2 linked regions of the Homo sapiens genome follow. The protein of the gene in region 1 interacts with the protein of each later gene in a pairwise test. Each region holds a gene or a part of one and is shown on either strand. Other genes may lie near its edges. The genes, in order: THAP10 and PTS.

The links.
Region 2: the proteins of THAP10 (region 1) and PTS interact in binary tests that used the Homo sapiens proteins (3 or more experiments, as listed by UniProt).

What each region holds. Positions count from the first base shown.
Region 1 is NC_000015.10:70,885,834-70,889,433, forward strand, and holds part of THAP10 (THAP domain-containing protein 10), read right to left. Parts: intron 1-3,600.
Region 2 is NC_000011.10:112,228,961-112,233,027, reverse strand, and holds part of PTS (6-pyruvoyl tetrahydrobiopterin synthase), read right to left. Parts: intron 2,821-4,067; coding exon 2,798-2,820; intron 2,403-2,797; coding exon 2,346-2,402; intron 1-2,345. UniProt on the Homo sapiens protein: Involved in the biosynthesis of tetrahydrobiopterin, an essential cofactor of aromatic amino acid hydroxylases. Catalyzes the transformation of 7,8-dihydroneopterin triphosphate into 6-pyruvoyl tetrahydropterin.

The sequences.
Region 1 (3,600 bases):
TAAACATGATTAATAGACATCAGTGGAACACTATCCAAGTGCAGTACGCACATTCATCTCAAGTACATATGGAACATTTAAAAAACTATTTTGAGCATGTTACAAGTTTCAACAAATTTCAAAAAATTAAGTCCATATATTGCATTTTCTCTGGCAGTAGTGTAATTGACCTAGAAATCTATTGCAAAAATTTAACTAAAAAATGCCCAGAGATACGGGAATTAAAAAATATACTTCTAATTAACCCACGAATAAAAGATAAAATCACAATGGAAATTAGATATTTTATACTAAATAATAAAAATACTGCATACCTAAAACTTGTAAGATTCAGTAAAGCCATGTTAGGTGGGGACTTATAATCTTTAATGCATATATTAGGATAGGAAAATTAATTGGGCTTAATTTAGGTTAGAATTATTAATATCATGCAAAAGGTATTCCACAAAATATCTCTAACATAGCCCCCTCTCAGGACCCAGATTTTCCTCTATCAACACCACTTTACTGAATTCTACATTTGTGAAATAAGCTTGTGAAACTTAGCTGCACCATTTAACATTCACCATAAAAATTCTGAAAATCAATGATATAATTTAACTTCTTAAGAAGTTAAAGACAGAGCAGTGGACAAAATTTTAAAAAGCAGAGGAAGGGAATAATGAATAAGTGAAATAAATGAAAAAAAAATTCTAGAGAGATCAACAAGGCAAAGTTTGTTCTTTGGAAAGACTAATAAAAATTGATAAACCGGTGGGGTGCGGTGGCTCACGCCTGTAATCCCAGCACTTTGGGAGGCTAAGGCAGGTGGGTCACGAGGTCAGGAGTTCAAGACCAGCCTGGCCAAGATGGTGAAACCCCATCACTACTAAAAATACAAAAATTAGCTGGGTGCGGTGGCAGGCACCTGTAATCCCAGCTACTCGGGAGGCTGAGACAGGAGAATCGCTTGAACCCGGGTGGCAGAGGTTGTAGTGAGCTGAGATTGCGCCACTGCACTCCAGCCTGTGTGACAGAGTGAGCCTCTGTCTAAAAAAGAAAAAAAAAAATCGATAAACCATCTGGTGAAGCTGATCAAGAAAAAATGAAAAAGCAAAAATTACCTCAGCTCAAACAGAATTTTTTTCAAATACAAGATTATCATGAAGGTTTTGTGTCAATACATTTAAAAATTTAGATGGAACAGACAAATTAAAAAATACTATTAATCAAAATGGATAAACAAAATACTATTTATCAAAATGGATAAACAAAAGAACTCTGAATAACCTTATAACAAAGAAATTGAATCCATCATAAAAAACCTTTCCAAAAGGAAAACTCCTGTCTTATCAATGAGTTCTACCAAATATTAATACCAAATTTATTAATGGATATATGCCATTTTATATAAACATTTCCAGAGAATGAAAAAAGAAGGAACAATTCCAAATCTGTTGGCATAATCTTCATACCAAACCTGAGAAAGGCATTCCAAGAAAGAAAAAAACTGTAGAACAGTTTCACTCGTGCACACAGATACAAAAATCCTAAATATTTTATTTTAGCTAATATTTTATTAAGCAATATGAGAAAGGAATAAAACACTTTGACCAAATTGAGTTTATTTTAGCCATGCAAGTTTGACTCTACATTTTAAAACCAATCAATATAATTTACTATATTAACATAATAAAAATGTTATCCTTAATAGATTCAGAACAACCATTTGATAAAATTCACCATTATTTATAATCTAAACTAGAAATAAAGGGGAACATTTCTTTTTATTACAAAGAGAGCTATAAAAAACTATAGTAAAAATCATAATCAAATGGGGAAATATTAAAGGCTTTCCCTCTGAAATTAGGAATGAGAAAAGGATTCCCCTCACCTCTTCTGTTCCCACACTGTACTGGACATTCAAGCCAGTGCAACAGGAAGAATACGAAATAAAAACACGAATATCAAACGCTTTTCTCAGATGATATTTTTGTACATGTATAAAATTCAAGAGAATTTATAAACTATTGAAATTAATAAGTGAGTTTAACAAGGTTTTTGGATACAAGTTCAACAAAAATTAATTTATCAATATGCACTTATAGATTATAAAATTTAAAATACCATTTATAGTAGCAAAATCAAATAGCTGTGAATAAATCTAATGAAAGATATGTAAGACCTCTACATCAAATGCCACAAAACACTTCTAAGAAAAATTTAAAAACCCAAATAAATGGAGATATATGTTCATGGATTAGAAGAGTCAATATTGTCAATATGCCATTTATTCCCATATTCATTTATGAATTCCATGGAGTCATAATCAAAATCCTCGTGAGTAACTTGTGAAAATTGACAAATCAATTCTGAAATGTATCTAGAAATCTAAAGAGCCCAACATAGTCAAAATATCCACAAACATGAACAAGGTAAGAGGTATTAATCAATTGAATATTCTTAATAAAGCTATATAAGACACTGTGATACTTTTGCTTAGGCAAACAGATAAGTGAAACAGAATAAAGTATGTGGAAACAGACCTATGCATATAAAGGGCACTTGATTTATGACAAAGTTGACATTGCAAGGCCAAGAAGAAATGCTAGTAGTTTCAATAAAAGATGCTGAGTCAAATGGGTATCAATGTTGGGGAAAATGAAACTTAAATCCTACCTCACACCAAACACAAAAATCAATTCTGAATTAGATCTAAATATAAAAAGTAAAAACAACAAAGTTTATTACAAACAGCATAGTAAAATGTTTTAAGTATTAAGAATAAGGAAAATTATTGGTAATTTGGACTACATCAGAATTAAGAACTTCAGTACATCAAAAGACATTATTAAGAACCAAGAGGCAACCCATAGTGGGAGAAGATAAAAACATTTAACTGAAAAAGGACTTCCAGGTAGAATCTATTAAAAATTCTAAATCAACAAGAAAAGACAGACAATCCAACAGAAAAATGGGCTAGATTTAAAAGGGCATGTCACTGAAGGCTACCTAAATATCCAATTAATATTTGAAAAGGTGTTTCCTTACTAATTTCATCAGTAATCGGGGGATGAAAAGCAAAAACATTACTACGCACTCTGCAAATGGACTCAGATGTGAAAGACTAGAAATCCCACGTATAGGCAAGAATGTGGAACAATGGAAACTATCAAACTTGTGGTAGAAGTGTAAATTGGTACAAGTATTTTAGAAAACTATTTGGTATTATCTACTGAAGTTTAATGTAATACTATGACCCAGCAATTCTAGGTATATATCCTCAGAAATGTGTGCACACGTGGACCAAAACACATATACAAGAGTTTATGGTAGTATCACTTATGATAGCCCCAATGGGTAAAAACCCAAATGTTCAACAATAGACAGACAAATTTTGGTATATTCATACAATGGAATACTACATAATAATGAAAATGAACTACTGTTCTATGCAACAATATGGATGAATCTCAAAAATGTAATGTTGAACAAAAGAAGCCAGACACAGAAAATGGCTACAGTATGATTTGATTTATATGAAATCCCCCCCCCAAAAAAAAGCAAACTTGGTTACCTTTGAGGAGAGGGGAGGGGCTGGATATGGGGTGATATAGGGAC
Region 2 (4,067 bases), on another chromosome or scaffold:
TACAAGGCAACTTTACAAAATTTCAAGTTGTAAAATAAAGTCAGGCCCAGCTGTCGGTAATGATTAGGAATCCTTGTTACTGAATAAAAAGAGGTGAGAAACCAAAAAGCAGAGAATTCCTGGAGCTTTCTCGCAACACAAGCCATTGTAATTCAGAATTCAGTTTAACACTTTGTGAATCCTGTCCAAACAGTTAGCACAAATATTTTTCCATAACACTGTCACACCTACGGAACAATGCCACAATATCATAAGGACAAAGATCCAGTGACTACTACATTTTATAAAGCAGACCTAGACTGAAATTATGTAAGTAGTTCTAAATTTTTGCTATGAGGAATAATTTAAGAATGATCTTGGGCTCATAGAAGGAAAAATATATATATGTAAAGACTATTACTCCCTAATGCTCGTGTATATTAACATAATGTTTTTCCTCATCATCAGCAAGGATTAAATTGCCTCATTCTTTCTAGGTTTTTGCTTTTAGCTATTGCAAAAAATCTAAGCATCTGTGAAAAAAAAATGTAATTTTCCATAGGACGTAGTTTGAAGAAGGGTACATTAATAACAGTAACAGCAATCATTTCTTGAGAAAAACTAGAATCATACAAAAAGAGTAAGTCCTAGATCAAACAGTTATTGAAATATATCCAATGAAGGGATGTTCCACATGAATAACAAGAAAACGGGCATCCTTGCTTCATCTTCAATCCCAGTTCCAGTCCCAATTTCTCCATTAAAGCCTCTTATGCAGGGCTTTTTGTTTTCTTTTGTTTTGTTTTTAGAGACAGGGTCTCTGTCATCCAGGCTGGAGTGCAAGTGGCATAATCATAGCTCACTGCAGCCTTGAACTCCTGGACTCAAGCAATCCTCCCCCCACGGTAGAGCTCTAACTTTACTCTACATGCCATGATAAGCCACTTTTACTGATGAAAGTGTGTGGTGTCCTTCAGGCATACAAAAGCAGAAAACAGCATAGAGAAGCCCTCCTCCAGTATTTAGTCATATGTTGAGGCCTTTTATGTTGCTGTCTTGTCTCTTTTCTTTCTTTTCTTTTCTTTTCTCTTTTTCTTTTTCTTTCTTTCCCCTCCCCTCTCCTCCCCTGTCCTCCCCTCCCCCTCCTCTTCTCCTGTCTCTGTCTCCCTCTCTCTCTCTCTCCGCCTGCCCCCCAACCCCTGCCCCATAAATGCATGCTGGCCCTATCTGTATAACTTTCCTAAAGTATTTTGAGCATAGTGCTGTTTCTTCATTCACTCATTCTTCTACTCATTTATTAAATCAACAGTTATTTAATAATATTCTTCACCTCCTAGAAAAAGTAATGTATACACTCTGTGGGCTACATCTCATTCATCTTTGTACACTTAGCTCAAAAACTGATGCGAAGTAGAGAAATTTGTTGAATATATGAATAAGTAATGTGAAAGAAGTAATCATTACTAATAACATCATTTTAATCAAGCAAATGTCAAATCTCAGAACAAACCTAAGCTGCAAGTGAAATGACAGCATAATAAAACAGCTGGAAGGAAAGAAATCTACTCCCAGCTTTGCAAATGACTAGCCATATGACCTGGGGCAAGTCAGTTAACTGTTCAGCATCTCTCAATCTTAATCTATGGGTTGAAGAAGTTGGTCTGAATAATCTCCAAAGTCTCTTACAGTGCAAGAATTCTATAATGACACAATCAGTTAAGTTCTTCATTGAACACCTTGTGTGTTATCTCTATGAGGTACTGCTCTGGTGAGTTTATAATAAAGCTAGAATGAACAACACAGTGTGGTGTCTAAATCTATGATCAAAGGTACAAGGAATATTCAGAGAGGGAAGAGAAAGCTCCAAGGAGAAGGCCAGGAGCAGTAGCTCATGCCTGTAATTCCAGCACTTTGGGAGGTCAAGGCAGGAGGTGTCTGAGACCAGCCTGAACAACATAGTGAGACCCCTACCTCTACCAAAAAGAAAAGTTTGCATTGGTTCTGTGCCTATTTAAAAAAAAAAAAAAAAAGAAAGACAGTAAGTCTCAAGGAGAAAGCTATGTCTTAAAAGAAATGGAGAATTTGTTAACTGAAGGAAATCAGGATATTCCAACAAGGAATACAAGGTGAGCATGTTATATTTCCTCCCATCGCTGTAACACAACTGTGACTAATTTCCGTTAAGTCACCAAAACACCTTTAGAGGCCATGCGAGCAGTTCTTCCAACTATTCCCCAACACCCACATCCAGTTCTATTCACAAAGTCATGGAACCTTAGGAGATAACTGGTTGGGGAGGTAGATAGGGGGCCACCAAATATTACAGTTAGGGAATAGCACATAATAAGCACCCAACATGCCATTACCTCCATATATTTTTTGAGATCAGCCAGATTCATAACCATTCCCGTAGCAGGGTCAATCTAAAGAATAAACAAAGGTGAATATTACTGTGATAGGCTCTCCATATTAAACGGCTGGCAAATTATTAAAGGCAGTACAATGTGCAGAGACTGTGCCCACATTTGCACATTTGCCTTCATCCCAGAGATAATCATTGACCTCAGCATGGAAGCACCATGTACTTCAAGCATCCTTTTCATTGTATAGCCCTTCTACCTGTCCACATACAGCATATTAAAGACAACACTTTGGTAGAGGAGAGGCCTGGAATGGCGGCAGCTCACCACACACACATATACAAGGGCCAACAATGAAGCAATACTGACTGGAACAGTTTTCAACACAGAATCCACCACACTGGCTGAAAGAGAGCCCAGCAATCTGCAAAAACCACACAAATATTTTCTGCACATACCTCTCCATGTACTGTCACCACAACTATGGAAAGAAAACAAAATACAAAAAAAACAGCATGACTTTCAACAGATCAACATCCAAGCACAAGTTAGCAACATACAAGCACAAGTTGGCAACATAAATTATTAGATCTGTCCCCAAAAGCTATACTTAAATATTTACCCCAAAACATCTGTTATTTTAGTTAAGATTTTTTTTTTAGCAACCAAAGCAAGACACAATCGAGACAAAGGAGCTTAGTAGGAATGTTGGCTAAGCAGAGGCACTCGGCCAAGGCTGAAAAGGGTGTAAATTCTGCTTATGTTAATGCACTAGGGAGCATCAAGATGCTGCTCAGTCTCTGCCTGTAGAAGTAGAAAATGTCTTTCAGGTGTCCAGCTACACAGCAAGCTGGTCCAATACTGAGCAGTACCTTTCTGAACAAGCAATACTACTGGGCCTTAAATTCTTGTCCCCTTACTCACATGAATGTATACAAAGTCTAAAGTAATGCTTTGTAAATTAAAAAGTGCTTGTGAGAAGCATTTGAAAAATCTTGGCCAGGCGTGGTGGCTCAAGCCTGTAATCCCAGCACTTCGGGAGGCCGAGGCGGGCAGATCACCTGAGGTCTGGAGTTTGAGAGCAGCCTGGCCAACATGGTGAAACCCCATCTCTACTAAAAATACAAAAATTAGCCAGGCATAGTGGCGGGCGCCTGTAATCTCAGCTACTCGGGAGGCTGAGGCTGGAGAATCGCTCGAACCTGGGAGGTGGAGGTTGTAGTGACGGGAGATCACACCATTCCAGCCTGGGCAAAAAGAGTGGAACTCCATCTCAAAAAAAAAAACAACAACAACAAAAAAAAACTTTATCAGTGCTTTACACATTAATAACTTTTATGAATTTATGTATTTTAGTTCTGTACAAATACCATTAGATATTACATGTAAGTGAGTACACTGAGACTGAGATACCATAGATTAAGGAAGAGGCTGTAGCTAAACCAGTAATCCTAATCTCCTGACACCTTGTCTGTTTTTTTTTATGCCACCACACCACATACTGTTTTATACTCTACGACTTATGTACCTGTTTTTTAAGGCAGGCTGTACCTCAAAGAATCAAGTCTCTTATCCTTGAACAAATTACCTACTTTCTTCGAACACTGCTGGCAAAGCTTTAGACCAAACCTATTTTTCTGCCATACATTACATTCCTAGGCAACATTCCCCTTTTGTCAGTCATTATTTACTCAAAGAATAAAATCTAATTTTAACATTAGCCTTGGC